3 linked regions of the Homo sapiens genome follow. The protein of the gene in region 2 interacts with the protein of the main gene of each other region in a pairwise test. Each region holds a gene or a part of one and is shown on either strand. Other genes may lie near its edges.

Evidence for each region. The genes of interacting proteins can lie anywhere in the genome.
Region 1: the proteins of KRTAP12-2 (region 2) and NOTCH2NLA interact in binary tests that used the Homo sapiens proteins (3 or more experiments, as listed by UniProt).
Region 3: the proteins of KRTAP12-2 (region 2) and MYOZ1 interact in binary tests that used the Homo sapiens proteins (3 or more experiments, as listed by UniProt).

What each region holds. Positions count from the first base shown.
Region 1 is NC_000001.11:146,226,011-146,233,974, forward strand, and holds the start of NOTCH2NLA (notch homolog 2 N-terminal-like protein A), read right to left. Parts: upstream 3,012-7,964; 5' UTR 2,702-3,011; coding exon of another isoform or gene 2,699-2,701; intron 1-2,698.
Region 2 is NC_000021.9:44,665,680-44,671,033, forward strand, and holds KRTAP12-2 (keratin-associated protein 12-2), read right to left. Parts: upstream 1,249-5,354; 5' UTR 1,208-1,248; coding exon 767-1,207; 3' UTR 510-766; downstream 1-509. UniProt on the Homo sapiens protein: In the hair cortex, hair keratin intermediate filaments are embedded in an interfilamentous matrix, consisting of hair keratin-associated proteins (KRTAP), which are essential for the formation of a rigid and resistant hair shaft through their extensive disulfide bond cross-linking with abundant cysteine residues of hair keratins.
Region 3 is NC_000010.11:73,638,464-73,645,601, forward strand, and holds the start of MYOZ1 (myozenin-1), read right to left. Parts: upstream 3,012-7,138; 5' UTR 2,948-3,011; intron 1,573-2,947; 5' UTR 1,555-1,572; coding exon 1,482-1,554; intron 1-1,481. UniProt on the Homo sapiens protein: Myozenins may serve as intracellular binding proteins involved in linking Z-disk proteins such as alpha-actinin, gamma-filamin, TCAP/telethonin, LDB3/ZASP and localizing calcineurin signaling to the sarcomere.

The DNA.
Region 1 (7,964 bases), on a different chromosome or scaffold from region 2:
GGTGAACCAAAAGTTGCTTCTCTATGTCATAGAAGCCTACAGGAGAGGCAGTAGGGTGGGAATGGAGCAGAGAGATCCCAAGAAGTTATGGGTAAATATTTTTTAAATCTAAACATTCAGAAAAATAAGAGAGACTAGGAATCACTCTCCTCCTCCTCTCCACCACACCAAAAAAAAAGGAATAATAAGAAAGTGAAAGGAAAAATAGTTTTAGGTTAAATTTCATCACCATCTGAAAGAAAATTACTCCGATTTTGTTTAAGCAAGAGAAGAATTCAGCTGAGAAATTATCTAGCAGGCAGCAAAATCAGGGAGTCACTTCCCATTGCAAAGCAAAAGAAAACAAGGAGCAAGAGTATGGTCCTGGATAGCTGTTTAGACAATCAGACATACTGCTAACATCTCCTTGCCTTAGAAACTCCGTGATGTTTAAATTAACAATTGGCCACAAGCCAAACACAGGAACACTCAAAAGTTTAGAAGGGTGTGCTGTAATTGGTACCTTAGCAAAACACAATAATAAATTAGGAGGATTCAAGAAGCCTTCACTGTAGACTCTAAGAAGATTTAAGATTTGTACCAAGAAACAGGCTTCTAAATCTCTTCTACTGCATTAGTTTAGCATCTAAAGAACACCTGTCTAAAAATCAAAATATCTAAATCCTATCCTTTGAGTCAACTTGACTAACACTCAACTTGACTACCTAAAAGCTAGCTAATAATCGCAGCACCTCAGCAGAGCAGAGGTGGAGGGCATAGTTTTACGCACTGAGATCCTATAATAAAAGAAGCCCTATGTGTCAGAGTAATCCCATTTCTGACATATTATTTAATACTTAATTTTTCAAATCACTTTACAATCATATTTATTATTCCCTACAATTCTCTAAAGCAGGTTATTCCTTTAGTCCTGCTTCATAGGTGAGGAGACTACATATCATGAAGATTAAGTTATTTACCAAAACAAGTTAATGATAGACCAAGGATTATTACCCTCAGACTGTCTCATTGATTATACTCCTCTCTATCCTAAAGCTACACTTAAAGCTTTCACTCAAAGAAAAAGGAAAAGCAAAAACACCATCATATATGCTCTTTATTAAATGCTTCAGAAACAACAGCTCTGCTTCATCACTACAAAGCCTCCTGGTCCACTTCTGAAATTCTTAGTGACCTAGACGTGTACGAAATTTGAACTTTCCAAGAAGTATCTAGTTGGTGCTGAACAACCCAGTACTATTTTCGGGTGATAAATAACCTTGTTCTCTTTTTAAACATCTGCGATTGACATGTCGACTGACTGTTAACAATGAACAAAGACCATATTTTTCTGAAGCTCATCATCTTCCTAACCTTTTCTTTGAAAACAGATGTAGTTCATGTACTAGTTTTTTGGTGAAGGTAAAAATCTTTATTCAGATTAGGCTCAGAAAAAGAAGGGGCTGCTTTCCGTTCAACAAATATGCACAAGACACCATCCCACTGGGAGCATCAATCTCAGAAGCAGTAAAACACAGCCTCGGCCCTCAAAGGACTTTCTGAACACCTTTGGAGTGTCATCCGTTTAATATACATTATTTTAATTAATCCTATTAGCTGGATAATTTCATTCCCATTTTATTGGTGAGTTCATATAGCAGAGCTGGATTTGAATCCAGGATTACAGAGCAGGGCTCCAAAGCCCAAGTTATTTCCACTAAAGGGTCTGAAGAAATGTAGAATCTAAAAGTGTGGGTGGGATGGGGAAGATATGATTTGATTCCCTTTCCTTGGTCCAACCGTGTTAGAAACATCCAACCACAAAGAAGCTTTCTAAGGAAGCCCTTTGAATTGACGTATCCACTTTTTCTCACCCGCCCGTGCCCCACCCCCAGCCATGCCAAAGGAGCAGCAAATGCTGCTGCCAGGTTGGAGGAATTGGTGATCGTCACACCACATTCCTGGGTCTGGACACAGCCTGAAACAGCAGCAGAGCTCCGCGCCTCAGAAAGAATAACAGCAGTTGAGATTTTTAAATCATGTGCCTCAGCATGCAGCCACACCAGTTGCCCTACTTCTCCTGCCTCCACCTTTCAAAGACGCGAGCAGCACACCCGGCTCCTCCGGACTTTCGGTGGGGTTGGAGTGTCAAAACTCAGGCGCGCCGCAAAACCCCGTCCCCATCCAAACCAAGCCCACACACCCGGCCCATGTGCCGCCCCCTGGCAAAGGCGAGGCTGGCTGCGAAGGTGCAGGCCGTTTGGCTTGGCGGCCCTGCCCCCGCTCTCCACGCCAGAATCTGGCATTCCTTCGCTCAGCCCCTCCGAGGCCCGCCGTCGGCTCTCGCTCGACCCCAGGAAACGCGGAACCTGAAGGGCAAAACTGCCCACCTCCCTGCACCCTGGCACTACGAAAAAGGAGTTTCTGAGACTTGCTGCCGGCCTCCCTCCTGCCGAGGAGGCGTGTGAGGGGTCCCGGGCCGCGGGGAGCAGAGGCGGCGGGGAACCCCGGCGGTTGGCGGGGAACCCCGGCGGTTGGCGGGGCACCACGGGAGGGGCCCCCGGCGATGTCCAAACTCTCGGGAACCCAGCGAGTGGCCTCGCTCCGCGCCGGCGGCCGAGCCTGGCCTTCCCACACAGAGAAGGACCGAGGGGGAGAAGGGTCGCCCCAGGTGGCAGCCCCGGGCGCCGCGGACAGCGCCCCTCAGCCCGATACTCACCATGCGCGGGGGTCGCGCAGCACAGCCAGAGCGCCAGCAGCGCCCACAGCAGAGCGGGGCGCAGGGCGGGTATCTTCTCGGTCGCCTCCTCCGCCGCCGCCGCCGCGGCCGCCTGGGCAGATCCACATGGGGAGGGGGTCCCGATAGAGGAGCCCCACTCTCTCCTCCCCTCCTCCTGCTTCAAAGGCTCAGGCCCTGGCGCTACGCTCCGAAGCCCAGCGCAAATGCCTCGACTCCCCGCGCCCCGAGTCCGCCGCTCCTCGGCCGCCGCCTCAGCCGCCGCCCGAAGTTTGGCTGAAACTTTCTCGGGTGTGCAGCGAAGCAGCCTCGTGTGTCCTTCCGCCTCAGCCGCCTCCTCCCACCGCAAGCCCCGCCCCACTGTCGCCGCGGCCTCGGCCCCGCCGCCTTGGGCACCCAGGGGTTTCCCGCAGGAAGAAGCGCCGGCCCGAGCTCCGCGCGGAGGGATCTACTACGAGTCACTGGCCCCGTCCGCATCCTTCTCCAGCGGCCCCGGGGGCCGCCGCGCCTTAACTCGATCAGGGCTGCAGCGGCTCGCTGGCTTGACCAGTGCAGAAGGGGCGTGGAGGTGAGCGGGGTGGGGTAGGACTCTGAACTTCAAGCACTGGAGTTTGCCGGGATCGTGAACTTGCAGGGAGAGGCGGTCCTCATCCAGTGAGGTCTGTATCGCCACCTACACCCACACATCCACACACTGCTTTGCTAGCTAGAGGAATGCTCTGGAGTAGGACCAGTGCTGTCAAAGAAGGAAAGTGGGCCAAGGCGCCAAAGTCCATTAAAAAGGAATAGAGCCATCACGGAGTGGTGCTGCCCCATTCATTCATTCATTTGTTCATCCGTGTAGCGAATATTTCTTAAGTGCCTTACTTTGCGTAGCTGTGTGCTTGGCAGTGGGATGATACCAAAGATGCACAAGCAACTTTGAGTACCAAGACTTTGCCGCTGTGGGCTGGGGGATTCAGGGAAGGCTTTCCCAGAGGAGCTGGGATGAAAGCAGGATCTTGAAAGGTCAGTAAAATTTGTATAAGACAAGGAGACCAGCTAAGCTAAGGATATTCGTTGTAACACTGTAATAGCAAAACCTTGAAAACAACATAAATGCCCACCCTTAGAGGAATGGATGAATAATGTATGGTATATTTATAAAATGAAATGCAACACAGTAATTGAAAAGACTATAGCTATTTATGTCAATAGGGATAAATCTTAAAAACTAAATGACAGTGAAAATAATCGCAGAGGGAGACAAAGTATACCATTTATGTATATTTTTTTCAAGACAATACTACACATTATCTGTGGATGCATATATATAGATATAGATATTAAGAGACTATAACCAGAATAGTAGTTACTTCCAGGGCAGGAGAGTAGGGGGTGTGATCAAACCTGGGTACAAGTGGGCTTCTAAGAAAAGAGCTAAAAGTAAGAACAACAACAATAGTTGTATGGACATATCATTCCGGGAAAGAGCCCTCGTGAAAGCAAAGGTACAGTCAGAAGAGTAAGTAAATGAGTTCTGTCTCTGTTAGCAGTGAGAGGAGTCAAGGACGGAAAGGGGGTTGGGACCAAATTATGCAGCCTTGAATGGCAAGCTGAAAGGGTGGGGAGGCAGCTACCTCTTAGGTCACATAAAACTATTGAAAGTTTTTGAACAGAGTTGAGATTGATGGAAAGGAAGATTGCTCTGATAATTCTGTAGAAAATTGATTGTTGGGAGCAAGAGGTGAACTGGAGCCCCAGGACCAGTCAAGAGTTGGTGAACAGTCCAGGCACAAATTTAAGAAGACCTGAACTAATAAGGTAGATTTCAGAAGGAATGAATCTGAGACAATGTTAAAGAAACAGAAAAAAAAAATGGAGGTGTGACTAATTGGATGTGGGAGTTTACAATCCTGTTGGGATGAGAAATCCTACCCATAGAACCTCTCCCTGACTCCTATAGGATAAAATTCAAACTTCTAAACATGGTACATACAAGGCCTTTTCGTCATTGGGCCCCATCTCCTGTCCTCCCTGCCCCTGTTGTGAACTTCACACAATAACAGTATTACTTGAGATTCCCCCAAACATATCTTGCTGTTTCTGTCCCTGTATCTTTTGTTCCTTTGGCTTGGAATGACTCCTGTAGTCCCCTTCCCTCCTCCTCTTAATGAACTTCTAATCATAATTCATCCTTCAGTCCAAAGAAGGCTTTGCCGACACCACAATAAATTCCTCCCTCTAACAGACAGTCCCTCCACTGTCTTCCACTGCCGCTTCTTTATCTTAACACCGATACTTATTTTTCACACAGGACTCTTTGTATTTCTGTGTTCTCAACTAAGTTTTGAGGTCCTCATGGGCAAAGACCACAGCCTATTAATCCCCAGTGTCTATCACATAATAGATGTTGAACTAGAATGTAAAACAACACTAAGCAAGTACAAGTCAGTATGGGCATAGACCTATGAAGTTCCAAAACTGCATGTTAACAAGCACTTTAGGTAAGCAAGTATCATTAGTGAAAGTAGTCACATTGAAATACTGGAAACCCTTTTCAAAAATAACGTAGTCAAAATATTTTTGGAATTTGTCTTGTGCAAGTATGTTCAGAGAAAGATAACATTATTTTTCAGTTGTTTACCCACAGTGTTACCAGTTCGATCTTCCTCTTTACTCACTAAAGATAATTCATAGTGACTTGGCTGCATACAAATTTTAAAAATCACCTGCAAAGATAAGTTTTGTCACTATTAAAATATATTCAGAAGAATATAAGATAGTTATCCCCAAAGAGCAACTCTAGAAGCGACTGTAGCTATGACAACATTATTAAAATAAATGTGCAGGCCAGGCGTGGCGGCTTATGTCATAATCCCAGCACTTTGGGAAGCTGAGGTGGGCAGATCACCTGAGGTCAGGAGTTCGAGACCAGCCTGGCCAACATGTTGAAAACCCGTCTCTACTAAAAATACCAAAAATTAGCCGGGCATGGTGGCGAGCACCTGTAATCCCAGCTACTCAGGAGACTGAGGCAGTAGAATCACTTGAACCCAGGAGGCAGAGATTGCAGTGAGCCAAGATCGTGCCACTGTACTCCAGCCTGGACAACAAGAGTGAAACTCCGTCTCAAAAAAAAAAAAAAAAAAATAGGTATGCAGTTTCTCAAAGTAACCGTTTTAAAGAAAGCAGCTATTATGTTCACATATAACTTTTGTTGAATGTGTTACAATATGAAAACTTACTGCATACATTCTGGTAAGGACAAGAGAAGTAAAGAGTAAATATGAATGGAAGTAAGGGAAAAATATGACTGAAGACATTTTTTAAAGATAAGTTTTAATGATAGAAAAATATGAGTAAGGGCTACCAATTGTTTTAGTTTTAATCAAAACTAAAAATATACATCTATGTCTTTACTGATTTAAACTCACATAAAACTGCCTTCCAAAATAAATGCAGAATTGGGCACTTATTTGTTCTCATGTCTGTCCTCTCAGAGCCGACAAGCTGTAAAAAACTCTCAAAATAAAACTCTGTTTTATTTTCTGTTTTGCCCCGGTTTCTATCACATAAGTGCTCAATAATATATGTTTTACATAAATGCTGAATGAGGAACATATATATCTATATAAACTGGGGAGCAGTGCAAGACTGGAAGAATGTCTTGGTGTGTTGGAGAAGTTGAAGAAGAGATTGTGGGATAGCTATGACACATAGATTGAGCTACACCACGAATCTCTCCATGTAACCCAGGAACCCAAGGATATGTGATGAGATGTTTGTGGAAGCAGGAATTAAAAGGAAGATTTCTTTTAATAATGCCTTGCAGTTGCACAGTGATTTAGACCTTCCAAAAACACTTTTAATTATATTATCTCATTTGATCCTCAAAACAATCGTGGGAAATAGGCACCCCAGTCATTATTATCCCCATTTTGCAGATGAAGAAACTGAGATAGAGCTTTAAGTATCTTGCCCAAGGTTAAATAAGTAATTAGTGAGCTGAGACAAACCCCCCACTATTTCTGTCCTCTTACTCAGTCTCACTCCACTGTACCTTTGTGCAACAATGTGAAGCACATCCAAGATGATATTTAGTGTGGGGACCTCTGCGTAGAGGGACACCAGTTTCTTGTCACTTCCATATTAGCACAGAACAAGCTGGCCCACTGTAACTAGGAAACATAAACAAGTGAATACATTCTTTTAATTTAAAATTTTTTTGAGAGCCTGTTCTCTATAAAGCACATACTAGGCTCTGCGGCAATGCAGAAATAAATAAAACCTAGTCCCTGTTCTTTGGAGATCACAGAGCAGTGAGGCAGGCCAACATACAAATAACATAACTACAACAGAGATAAAGCACAGGGATATGGGAAAGTAGAGAGCACTGGGATTAATTTTGAGTCCACTTTCCTCTCATCCAGTCCCCAGCCTGAAAGATATGAACTGTGGTGGCCCACACAGCTGGACTGTAAACCATGTGACAAGAGTCATTTCTTACCCCTTATTCATGTTTGTAAACTCCACAGTAGTTGGTTCTTTGCCTTGCATAGAGTATGTGCTCAATAAAGACCTACTTTCTGAAAGGTTCACAGAGTTCAGCCAAACACAGGACAAGTTCTAGAAGGCAAGACGTTAACCTCAAGATTCAAACTAGCTCTGAGAATTAAGAACCAGCCAGACCCTTCCACTGAGCCTAGACCCAATTAATTACCTCTGCTCTAATTAAGGGAATCAGTAATGTAAGTAATTGTAATATGGGCGATATAGTTTGCCTGTGTCCCCACCCAATATCTTATTTTGAATTGTAATCCCCATGTGTCAAGGGAGAGACCAGGTGGAGGTAATTGAATCATGGGGGCGGTTTCTCCCATGCTGTTCTCCTGATAATGAGCGAGTTCACGAGATCTGATGGTTTTATGTGTTTGGTAGTTCCTCCTGCATTAATTTTCCTTCATGCTGCCTTATGAAGAAGGTACCTTGCTTCCCCTTTGCCTTCTGCCATGATTGTTAAATTTCCTGAGGCCTTCCCAGCCATGCTAAACTGTGAGTCAGTTAACCTGTTTCCTTTATAAATTACCCAGTCTTGGGCAGTTCTTTACAGCACTGTGAAGACAGACTAATACAGTGGGCTTGTTGACATAGTTTTGCCCTTTTATGAATGTGATTATCTCAATTTTATTATGTTAAGGAAGGACACAGTGGCCCACACCTGTAATCCCAACACTTTGGGAGTCCAAGGCAGAAGGATGGCTTGAGC
Region 2 (5,354 bases):
ATGTCAGGCAGTGGGTTCATGCGGGTTTATTATATTAGGATCCTCAGTAATTGATCATCAGTCAATCAATAAAAACCAAGCCTTTGTGGACCAGTGATGGGAGTGTGTGCCGCAGAACTAATCCAGTTCTGTAAACTTGAGATCCTCCGCGACCTGGGAAACAGGACGTCCACCAACCACATCAGAAAACCCAATTGTCAATGCTCTGAGGCTTTGGCCATCAGTGCAGGGCTTGTTGGCCTGGAGCAGGAGTGGACAGCCAGTGGGGAAGCGAGACCACTCTACCACAGGCGGGTAAGTCACTTCTGTGGCCACTGCACCTGGGCCCCAGGAGCCCTGGGAGAGACCACATGGGCATCTGCAGCTGCGCCCTCCACCCGGGACACCACCTTCTGATGAGCACTGGGTGAAGGGATCACTGAAGAGGGTTTAGCAGCAAATTCTATGTAATCAGCAGAATAGATAGCAGGGAGTATGGAAATAAAAAAGAAAGACCAGAAATGCAGAGCTGCATGGGGAAAGCTGGTTTATTTGGCTCTCATGGGGTCAGAGAATGACTCTGGGACCCCAGACTTCCCTGGGGGGATGGGCAAGGTCAGCAAGGGCTCCAGATCATTCTGTCACATTCTCAATCCAGAATTCAGAGGGTTCAACTGAGCATGCTTTTCACCTGCACCATGTGCAGAAGACCAACTGAGGACTCATCCAGGGAGTGTACAGGTGTGGCCTCATCTGCACTGGGAGCAGCGGGTCTGGAGATTCATGCTCAGCAGCAGGAAGAGATACTGTAGGAGATGGGTCTGCAGAGGACGCTGGTGCAGGAGGGCTGGCAGCACCCAGAGGACTGGCAGGACGGAGCCGCATACACGACAGGCCTGCAGCTCACAGGCACGCACAGGGAGGACTGGCAGGAGGGGGCTGCACACACAATGGGCCTGCAGCTCACAGGCACACACACAGAAGACTGGCAGCTCACGGGCACGCACACAGCTGACTTGAAGCTCATGGGCACACACACAGAAGACTGGCAGCTCACGGGCAGGCACACGGCTGGCTTGAAGCTCACGGGCACACACACGGAGGACTGGCAGCCCACAGGCACACAGCAGGATGCCTGGCAGGAGCTGGGCACACAACAGGCTGGCTGGCAGGGGCTGGGCGCGCAGCAGGCTGGCTGGCAGCCCGAGGAGCAGCTGGTATGACACATGGTGGCGTGTGGCTGGATAAGGTCGAGGCAGAGGGCAGTGATGTCTGGGGACGGCCTCCCTGGGCAGCCTTTATACCTGGGCCCAGGCATCCCCACAGCACAGAAGCACACCTGTCTTCCTTGTTTTTCTTCCTCAGTGCTGTCTCCTGGAGCTTAATTTTCTGTTGTAGGTGTCTCTGGGTTTTGTTTGGCCCTTAGCTTCATGACTAATTGCACCTTCTTCGAACTCTTGGTATGCTTGGAAACCTGCCAGAGTGTTTTACTGGCTTCATCAAGATTCTTCCTTGTTCTTTAAAATTTTACCTGAGTTACTTTTGTGAGATTCCAAAAACTCAGATCTCCAGATTTTTTTCCTCTCTGTGTGATGATGGTCCTTAAACCACAGAAGTTTACACTCCTCTCATGGCTCAGGAAGGCTCCACAGTCAATGTGAGGTAGAACAGGACGTGTCTAGCTGATCTGTGGGTGTCCTGAGAGCTTAGAGCTGGATGAGAGCTAGCAGATGGAGGAAGAACATGGAAATCACTTGTCCATAGGATGAGTGGGGACAAAGGGTGTGGGTCACAGAGAACTTCTTGTGAGTGGTGACCATGGATCTTTGTCTTGAGAAATCCTCCTAGTTAAGAACCAAGATGAGACAACACCACTGGCCCTCATGCATGGAGACACAGCTCTAAGGAAATCAAGCTGGTCCAAGCATGTTCCCAGGGAAGCATGTGAGGCCAGTGAAGGGTCCCATGGACAGCCACAGCAGGATATGTGTGAGCTGAATATAGAAGGTTCCAAGGGCCAGAATGACTTCTGGGTATGTTCAGCAGAAAGCCATGTGCACCCTGTACTGCAGGGACAGTAGAATCTCTGAGCCTACAGATGTCAACACCAGATCACTTGGAACTTGGCATCATGATAACAGAATGAAGGAAAAAACCACGTGATCATCTCAATTGATATAGAAAAGGCATTTCACAAAATTCAAGATTCTTTCATGATGACAACAATCAACAAACTAAGAATAGAAGAAAACTACCTCAACACAATACAAGCCATACATGAAAGACCCACAGCAAGCCTCATACCCACTGGTGAAAAACTGAAGGCTTTTTCTCTAATATTGGGAACAAAGCCAGCATAGTACTAGAAGTTTTACTAAGAGCAACTAGGCAATTGTTTTTAAAAGGAAGAAAGAAAGAAACAAAAAGCATCCAAATTGAAAAGCAAGAAGTAAAGTTAGCTGTGTTCACAGATGACATGATTTTTATATGTAGAAAACTCTAAATATTCCACACACAAAAATTTTAGAATAAATGAATTCAGCAAAGTAGCAGGATACAAAAGCAAAACACAAAAATCAGTTCTATTTCCATAAACTAACAAGCATAATCTCAAAAGGAAAGTACAATAACAATTCCATTTACAATACATTAAAAAGAACAAAATACTCAGGAGTTAACCAAAGAATTAAAATAATTGTGTAACAAAAACTACAAAACGTTGAAAGAAATTAAAGGCAACAGAAATAAATGGAAACACATCCCATGTTCATGAATTGGAAATTAATATTGTTAATATGTCCATACTAACCAAAGCAATCTACAGATTCAATGCAATCCCTGTCAAAATCCCAAGGACATTTCTTGCAGAAATAGAAAAACCCATCCTAAAGTTTATGTGGAGTCTCAAGGGACCCTAAATAGCCAAATCAATCTTAAGAAAAGAATAGAGCTGGAGGAGTCACACTTTCTGATTTCAAAACTTACTACAAAGCTACACTAATCAAAACTGTGGTACTGGCATAAAGACCAATATATAGACTAATGGAATAGCATAGAGAGCCCAGAAATAAACTCTCACAACTACAGTCAAATAATTTTCGGCAAGGCTGTCAAGACCTTTCAGTGAGGGAAGAACAGACTTTTTAACAAATGGCAGTGGGAAAACAGGATATCCACACACAAAAGATTATTTTTAACCCTTACCTCACACCATATACAAAATTAACTCAAGATCAAAGATAGAGAATCTCAGTAGGGAAATTGAAACTATTTTTTAAATGGGAATGCTAGAACTAAAATGTACAATAGCTGATATTTTAAAATCCACATGATAGACGTAAATATAGAATGAGATTGAAGAAGAGTTCATGAACTTGAAGCACATCAATAGAAATTATCCAAAATGAAGGAGAGGAAGAAAAAGAATTAAGAAAAATGAAAAGAGCCTGTGAGACATCATTAAACAGCATCACATATATGTAATATCAAACTCAGGTGGCTCACGCCTGTAATCCCAGCACTTTGGGAGGGCAAGGCGGCTGGATCATGAGGTCAAGAGATCGAGACCATCCTGGCTAACATGGTGCAACCCCGCCTCTACTAAAAATACAAAAATTAGCTGGGTGTGGTGGCACGTGCCTGTAGTCCCAGCTACTTGGGAGGCTGAGGCAGGAGAATCACTTGAACCCGGGAGGTGGAGTTTGCAGTGAGGTGAGATTGCACCACTGCACTCCAGCCTGTGACAGAGCAGGACTCCATCTCAAAAAAAATTAAATAAAAAAATAAAGCACTGGGCATTCTCCCCTAAAACACAAAGCTACAAACACAGAGCCTCCTCCACCCCTCAGCATCAAGGGGGCAAGGGTGAGGGGTTGGAGGGCTGTACTTTCAGTTAAAGAGAGGCTAGCTGTGTGCCTGCAGTATGGACTAAGGAGCCTGGAGCCTGGACTGAGGCTGCCAGGCTGAAAACCGAGACCATGACATCAGGTTCCAGCACACTCCATTGCTACTGGCAACAGCCATCCCAGTATTCCCACCATTCTCCTCCTCGGCTTACGGATCACCCGCAGGAGGTGGCGTGCCTTGTTGGGATGAACATCCGGATGCCCTTTGCCCCAGCAGTCCCACCCCCAGAGGTCCTACCCCCAGAACACTAACAAACAAATTGTGGAATAGGTTTGCAAATGTTTATATCAGCACCATCTGTAATAGCAGACTCTTGGGAACAACAGGCCTGCCCATCTACTGGGGGGCATTTAACCTGAAGTAGAAACAGCAGAACCCCAGGAAGGAGGCACGCTGAATACAGAATACACCCACAAGAAATGCAGAGGACCCTTAGCAACTCTGTACAGAGTGGGAGACATAAGTCTCAGAAGATTACTCAGAATAATTCCCTTTTAATATCATTCAAAACCACTAAATTAGAAAACACACATTTCAGGAATACAAAGAGATATGACTCAACTCTATTTTTTCTAGAAAGTAACAGAATAAAGGGCACATAATCCCAACAGTGGCTGCCCCAAGAAGTTCATGGTAAATTATTGATGATGTTCTAGTTTCTGTGTCAGGTAGTGGGTTCATGGTTCATAGGTGGGGGGGTTGTTATAATCATTAATAATTGATCAATCAGTAAAAAGTGGGCAGGCTCAAGAGGGCTGACTAGAGGCACCTGACACTTGCCTCTTCCACAAAGAACCCAAAAGAGTGAGAGGTAACAACATTTTGAATGGGACATCTGAGAGAGACACTGGAATTCAGCAAAGAAGCAACTGGAATTCAGCAAAGAAGCGACAGGAAATATCTGAGGCACAGAAGGCAAGGGAAGGGAGGCAGCTGGCCCAGCTAGAATCAGTCGGGAGCCCACAGAGACTCCCCAGTCCAGGGAAATGGTAAATGAGAGATTCCCAGCTGTCTACATTTCCACCATGGATTCAGCATGGACCTGAAACCCTAGCCATGGGAGAGCCTCTTATTCTTCACATGCCCTGAGACTTACATAGGGATTTGCCAGGATGCCACATAATGGCATTGCTCCAGAGAAAGAGCCCACACTGGGTCTCACACACCCACCAGGTCCTGAGCAGCTGTAGCATGGTGCCATTTTGAGAGCCCAGCCCCTAAAAGTCTGCATCCTGCCCTGGGGCCCAACAGATCTTGTATCTCCACATCCCTTCAGCTCTGCCGAATCCCACAACCCCCACCAACCCAAGAGGGCTGCAGGAGTGCAATACCAGCTGGATGCATCAATAAGGCAGGGGTTCATGAACTTGCATGTACCCTGAGTACAGGCTTTCCCCACCCACCATCATAAATTACCCCACACTATTCACCATAGCCTGTGTCCATGCACACTGTGTGGCCTGGCACTG
Region 3 (7,138 bases), on a different chromosome or scaffold from region 2:
CTGGGATTGCAGGCCTGCACCACCATCCCTGGCTGATTTTTATATTTTTTGGTAGGGATGGGGTTTCACCATGTTGGCCAGGCTGGTCGCAAACTCCTGAGCTCAACTGACCTACCAGCCACGGCCTCCCAAAATGCTGGGATGACAGGCGTGAGCCGTGGCGCCCAGCCTACATTTTATTTATTTATTTATTTATTTATTTATTTATTTATTTATTTATTGAGTCAGAGACTTGCTCTGTCTCCCAGGCTGAAGTGCAATGGCGCGATTGCAGCTCACTGCAACCTCCATCTCCTGGGTTCAAGTGATTCTCCTCCCTCAGTCTCCCAAGTAGCCGGGATTACAGGCACCCGGCACCATGCCCAGTTAATTTTTCTATTTTTGTAGAGACAGGGTTTCACCATGTTGGCCGGGCTGGTCTTGAACTTCTGACCTCAGATGATTGGCCCACCTCAGCCTCCCAAAGTGCTGGGATTACAGGCATGAGCCACCACGCCTGGACTTTTTTTTTTTTTTTTTTTTTAATGGAAATGAGGTCTCATTATGTTGTCCAGGCTGGTCTTGAACTCCTGGGCTCAAGTGGTCCTCTCACCTCAGCCTCCCAAAGTGCTGCGATTACAGGTATGAGACACAGCCCCAGCCCTATTTGTATTATTTATTTTGAGACAAAATAAATATATCTTAGGATGAACTCTGTCACCCAGGCTGGAGGGTAGCGTCGCAATCATGGCTCACGGCAGCCTCCACCTCCCGGGTTCAAGCGATCGTCCCACCTCAGCCTCTGGAGTAGCTGGGACTCTAGGCACATGCCACTACACCTGGCTAATTTTTGTACTTTTTGTAGAGACGAGGTTTTACCATGTGCCTAGGCCAGTCTCAAACCCCTGAGTTCAAGCGATCCACCAGCCTTGGCCTCCCAAAGTTCTGGGATTACAGGCGTGAGCCACTGCACCTGGCCCAGACTTCTGTCTTAACTACTTTCCCTTTTCTTTCCCTCAGTGAGCTCTGGCTCCAAAGAGTCTCTAGGTATTGAAGAGCTCTTCACATGCATGCACCCCTGCCCACCCCCAGGAAACATGCCTGTGCAGTTTTCCATTTTAAGTACTTACACAAGCTCCCTAGCTCTGGGGAAAGAAGTAAGGGAAATTAACCACTTATTGAGACCTGAGTCTGTGCCAGTCTCCATTATATTTTCTTCCTCAAATATACCTCACTGACTCATGGGTCCTGTGGTCCTGGACCTGTGCAGGTAACATGGCAGGGTATTGTCTCAGATTATGAAGTGAAAAGGGTAGAAGGTGTTGAATCTTTTCTCTCTTTCTCCTTACCCTTCTTAATCTTCCCTCTCCCACTCCCCATCACCCGCCTTCCCACCACTTAATTTCTCTTGTTTGTTCACCCTAAGATATATATTTCTGGGACTCTTGGTTTAGGGATGCTCTTAAGAAGTCCCACACTAGGGAGATGCAAACATGTCCTACCTCCAGTGAGTTCCATGATCAGCTTGCTGGATTTCCTCTTCTTATTAGGGGCCGGGGTTCCTGAGAGCGGCATTGTGGAGGTGGATTCAGCCTGGACAGGGTGGGAAGGAGGAGTTGGTGGATGGACAGGGACTGGGAAGAGTGAGTGTCTGTAGGAGAGCAGCACTTCTTAACCTGGGTTTAAGGGCTTGAGGGGACAAAAAAATTTTTTTTTCTTTTTTAGAGACAGGATCTCACTCTGTCGCCCAGGCTGGAGTGCAATGGCACAATCATGCCTCACTGCAGCCTCAACCTCCCTGGGCTCAGGTGATCCTCCAACTTCAGCCTCCCAAGTAGCTGGGACTATAGGTGCGCACCACCGTGCCTGGCTAATTTTTGTATTTTTTGTAGAAATGTGGTTTTGCCATGTTGCCCAGGCTGGTCTCAAACTCCTGGGCTCAAGCAGTCCTCCTGCCTCCCAAAGTGCTGAGATTACAGGGGTGAGCCACTTCACCTGACCCAGATTTTCAAAGAAGCATGTATTTCCCCAAAAGGTGAAAACTTGCGCTTTAGGGCTTCTCTTTTCTTGGGATACAGGACAGGAAGTATAGATGCACACCAGCCCCTGTTGTCTACCAACCTGTTGTGAGCTGTTTTTCATAGAGTCAGTGCAGGAATTAGGAACATAGCTAGGTGTGGGGAGTGTTTAAAAAACAATAACACAAGCAGGGCAATGCACCCAGGTTTCATTGGCTTGGCATGATTTGAAGTTTTTATTTGCACTGGGATATCAGACTGGGGCTGTGATTCCAGGCTCTGGTCTCTCCTCAGTCTTCCCCCAGTCCCCAGGAGGACAGAGAAATATTCTGCCAGGGTTGAGGAGATTCAGCCAAAAACACTCTCCATAGGAAGGAGAGGTTGTTGCTCCTTCATCAGGCCAGCTGGAACATGGCCTGGGAAGTCATGGCCCTGCTCCTGCAATCACTCCCGCCACAGACCCCAGAGTGGAGGCAGGTGTGGAACTGGGAAGGGTAGGGAGCATTCAAATCCCGACACGTCAATTCAGCAATATCATAGCAGTGGGGAATTGAGGTGGGGCAGAAACATAGTAATAGGATCTGGCAATGGAAAGGGACAAACTGGGATAAGATGGACTCCAATCCCTTCTTAAGAGAAGTTGGCACTCAGTGAAATGCTGTCCTCTTCTAAGTCCTGTCTCAAAAAATACATCTGCAACTCTACTGACTTAGTGGGGTCTCCCTTCCCATTCTTCCAGTGCCTCCCCCGACATCTCCATTCCCCCCAACCTCCTGGGCCCCTCTCCTTCCAACTCTCCTTCCCCTCTCCTTCCAACTGGACAGCTGGGAGCTGAGCATAGATGAGGAGAGGGGAGACTCCCCCAGGATCAAGAATCACAATTGTAGACACAGACACAGAAGTCAACACAGTGGGCTCCAGCCTTTCTAACGATAGAGCTGGAGACTTACCGGCTGCTCGGGCAGTGGTCAGCTCTCCCTGGGGTCCAGCAGCTTTGGAGGACTGAGCTGCTGTGACCGGAGAACACGAGCTGGGCAGGCGTGGGGGCAGCACTGGCAGTGGGGGAGGGAAGTTGGTTATTAATAGAGATGATGAGCGCAAGCAGCTCAAATGGCACAGGGGGTACTGAGACCCTGGAACCAAGATCCCTCCCTCCTTGCCCGGAGGCTCAGGAAGGAGGGAAAAGGCCTTTGGGATTCTCCCACTGAACTGTCTGAGCCAGGGATCAGTCTGCCCAGGGACTCCCCTTCACATTGCACCTAGAGCCTGAGATCCAAAGAAGCACTTAGGGAGAAACTGAAGACTGAGAGGGAGACAGGAAGTAGACAGCAAGTATTGGATAGGAATTCAGTCAGAGAGAGAGAGTCTGGGGAACATGCCCTGAGGGCCACACAGAGCCAATCCAGGGCAGAGTGGAGAGACCTGTGGGTGTATTTGGAGCAGGGAGGGCTTAAAGTGCTATATTTGGGGACAAAAAGGGAAGTCTTCACAGTGGAACTGCTCTTTTAAAGTTCCTGGATAGGTTGGTCTTTTCTCGGTAAGGGCTAGATCTTGGCAGGTTAAGGGACCAAATTAACTAAACCCAGTACCTCCTACAAAGGAATGATGTGGGGAAGACTTGACAATTATTCTGTCTGCCTCACTCCCTATTCTTTCCTCTTGAGCTCTGGCAGTTTTAATAAAAGACAAACACTTGGATCTGCATTTTTTTTTTTTTTTTTTTGAGATGGAGTTTCGCTCTTTTTGCCCAGGCTGGAGTGCAGTGGTGCGATCTCGGCTCACTGCAACCTCCACCTCCTGGGTTCAAGCAATTCTCCTGCCTCAGCCTACTGAGTAGCTGGGATTACAGGTGTCCACCACCATGCCCGGCTAATTGTTGTATTTTTAGTAGAGACGGGGTTTCACCACGTTGGCCAGGCTGGTCTCAAACTCCTGACCTCAGGTGATCCACCCACATTGGCCTCGCAAAATGTTGGAATTACAGGCGTGAGCCACCGCCAGGATCTGGTCTCTAAGGAGTTATTCTCTAGCCACCACGCCCAGCCAGGATCTGCCTTTTAACCTCCATTTGCTGTTGAGATGCTCAGTTCAACCTGCTGTGCGGGATAGACATCGATGTCTCCCTGAGAAGCACATATAGGCTCTCTGAGGTTTCTTTTCTTCTTCTTTTTTTTTTTTTTTTTTGAGACGGAGTCTCGCTCTGTTGCCCAGGCTGGAGTGCAGTGGCGCAATCTCGGCTCACTGCAAGCTCCACCTCCCAGGTTCACGCCATTCTCCTGCCTCAGCCTCCCGAGTAGCTGGGACTACAGGCGCCCACCAACACGCCCGGCTAAATTTTTTTTTGTATTTTTAGTAGAGATGGGGTTTCACCGTGTTAGCCAGGATAGTCTCGATCTCCTGACCTCGTGATCCATCCATCTCAGCCTCCCGAAGTGCTGGGATTACAGGCTCTCTGAGGTTTCTACTTGAGATTTCCTGCAAAGGGAGCACATACCACATAGGATCTGGACTGTGCCATTTGTACTGTTCCAGCGGAGTCTCTGGGCAGGGCCACAGGCTTGAAAGCCCCTTTGGGGAAAGCCTATCATTTCCCCAGGCCCTTCTTCAGTAGCTGCATGATCTTCCTCCACCTTCTGCTTAGATTCTGGAACCAGTTGCTGCAGCACTTCTGCTGCAGCCACCACAACCCTGTTGCTGCTACCTGAGGAAGTGGCTTTATTTATTTATTTATTTATTTGAGACAGGGTCTCACTCTGTTGCCTGTGCTGAAGTGCAGTGGCACAATTTTGGCTCACTGCAACCTCAGCCTCCCCAGGCTCAGGTAATCCTTCGACCTCAGCCTCCCAGGTAGCTAGGGCTGCTGGTACATGCCACCACGCCCAGCTAATTTTCATATGTTTTGTAGAGACAGGGTTTCACTATGTTTCCCAGGCTGGTCTCAAACACCTGGGCTCAAGCAATCCTCCTGTCTTAGCCTCCCAAAGTGCTAGGATTATAGGCGTGAGCCACTGTGCCTAGCTGGCTTTTTAAAAAATTATTTCTTTCTTTATTTTAGAGATGGGGGTCTCACTATGTTGCCCAGGCTGGACTTGAACACCTGGGCACAAGTGATCCTCCTACCTCAGCCTCTGAGTAGCTGGGACTACAGGCACGCACCAGGAAGTGGCTTTTGTAACTTCCTTTGTCCCCTTCTGAGCTCTTTACTCTTCCTGACCATGTCCTTTTTCCATCCTGTGGAGACCCTAAAAGGTATCCCCTCACAGTTGGCTTCTGCCCAGGCTAGTTATGCCTCCAGACCCCTCATCTTTTGTCCTCCTCCATCCCCTCCCAACCCAAGGAAGCAATTAGAAGATAAAATAGGCCGGGCGTGGTGGCTCATGCCTGTAATCACAGCACTTTGGGAGGCCGAGGTGGGTGGATCACTTGAGGTCAGGAGTTCAAGACCAGCCTGGCCAACATGGTGAAACCCAGTCTCTACTAAAAATACAAAAACTAGTCAGGCATGGCGGTGCGTGCCTGTAATCCCAGCTACTTGGGAGGCTGAGGCAGGAGAATCACTTGAACCCAGGAGGCAGAGGTTGCAGTGAGCTGAGATCGCACCACTGCACTCCAGCCTGAGCCACAGAGGGAGACTCCATCTCAAAAAAAAAGAAGAACTATAAATAGCTAAAGGTGACTTCATCATCACTACCACCCTCACCCTCAAAAACAAAAACAAACTGAAAGTTTGATCTCCTTCAACTGAGTACCCAAAACGACTGAGTGGGTGAAGACAGGCTATTTAACCTATGGTCTCTGAGATCTTTTTTTGGAATTCTAAGACAGTGCACTTGGAAGAGTCTGCGGCCTGGGTCTGATTATTGGCACAAATGTGCCCTCTGCTGGCAGAATCAGAGCAATGGCACTTTCCTTCTCTGAAGTCTAATTCTCACCTACCTCCAACGCCCTCCCTTCTTTAGTAGTCTCAATTCAGCTTTATTCTTCCCTCTCCCATCCCACCTTCCCCTCCAGCCCTCCAGCCATTGCTTTCTCTTCATTTACTTCCCAGAGACTGTTTAATATGGTTGCTTCCTCTAAGGAGCGAGGAAATGTTGATAGCAAAGGGCTCAGAGGGCCTTTCCAACTTCTCTGAGTTCTGTGAACTGAAGCCTTACCTAGAAAGTATGAGGCAAGGGAGGGAAAGGGGAGAACTTGGATGAAGACTGTGGGGAGAGGGAACCAAGAAGAGTGATGGAGGTGGCTAAATCAAAGCAGGACAGAATTTGTATAAAAGAGCAAAAGACCTGGGAACAAAGGGCAAAAGGATGAAAAATGGGAGGGCAGGAAAAGAGACAGATCAGAAATCAGATCAGGGGAATGGGTTAAAGAAGATTAAGGAGAGATCAGGATTTAGGAATAAAACTAGAAGATAACAGCAACAGAAGGTATGGGGCATAAATTTATTCTTGTGCACAAACCAAAGTATTGTGACTCACACCCAACAAGCAAAGGAAATTATCACTTTCCAGATTACACAGCAAACGTAGCTGGTGGTGGTCTTGGTGAGAAGGGAGTCCATACTAAGATTGGAGATCAGGACCTGAAGCTGAAAAGAAGCAATAGCTGGGGTTTTGAGGGATGGGGTGGGACTGAAAGGAGGTTTTGGCTCTGGGTATTTCCCTACTCTTTCCCAGGCAGTCATGGCAAGCTGCAGAAGACACACTGAAGAACAGACTCAAGGAAAATCACACAGACACCAACCGTTCTTTCAACACTCAGCACACACCCTCACACCTCCCTTCCACCATCATTCCCTTCCATTCTAACATTCTTCTCCCTCAAATTTTTTTCCAATCCCCCTCTCACACACGGTTGGTTTCTTGTTACTCAACTTTACCTTCTCCCAATATGGCATTGTCCCTCGCCACACTTCTGTCTGTGGCTCAATCACTTACACTCATTTCTGCCATGCTTCTGATTTTGGCCTCACTTGCCACACTCTGGCTCTCTTCTCCTTTCTCTCAAGCTCATGAGGCAATGAAGCCAATGATTTGTTCATTCTCGGAGGGAATTTTCTTTCTTTTTTTCATTTCCTGGGTACTGGGTTGCTCAGCACTGGCCTCTCAAGTTGCTAACTTTTTGAAATCCTGAGGTATAGAATT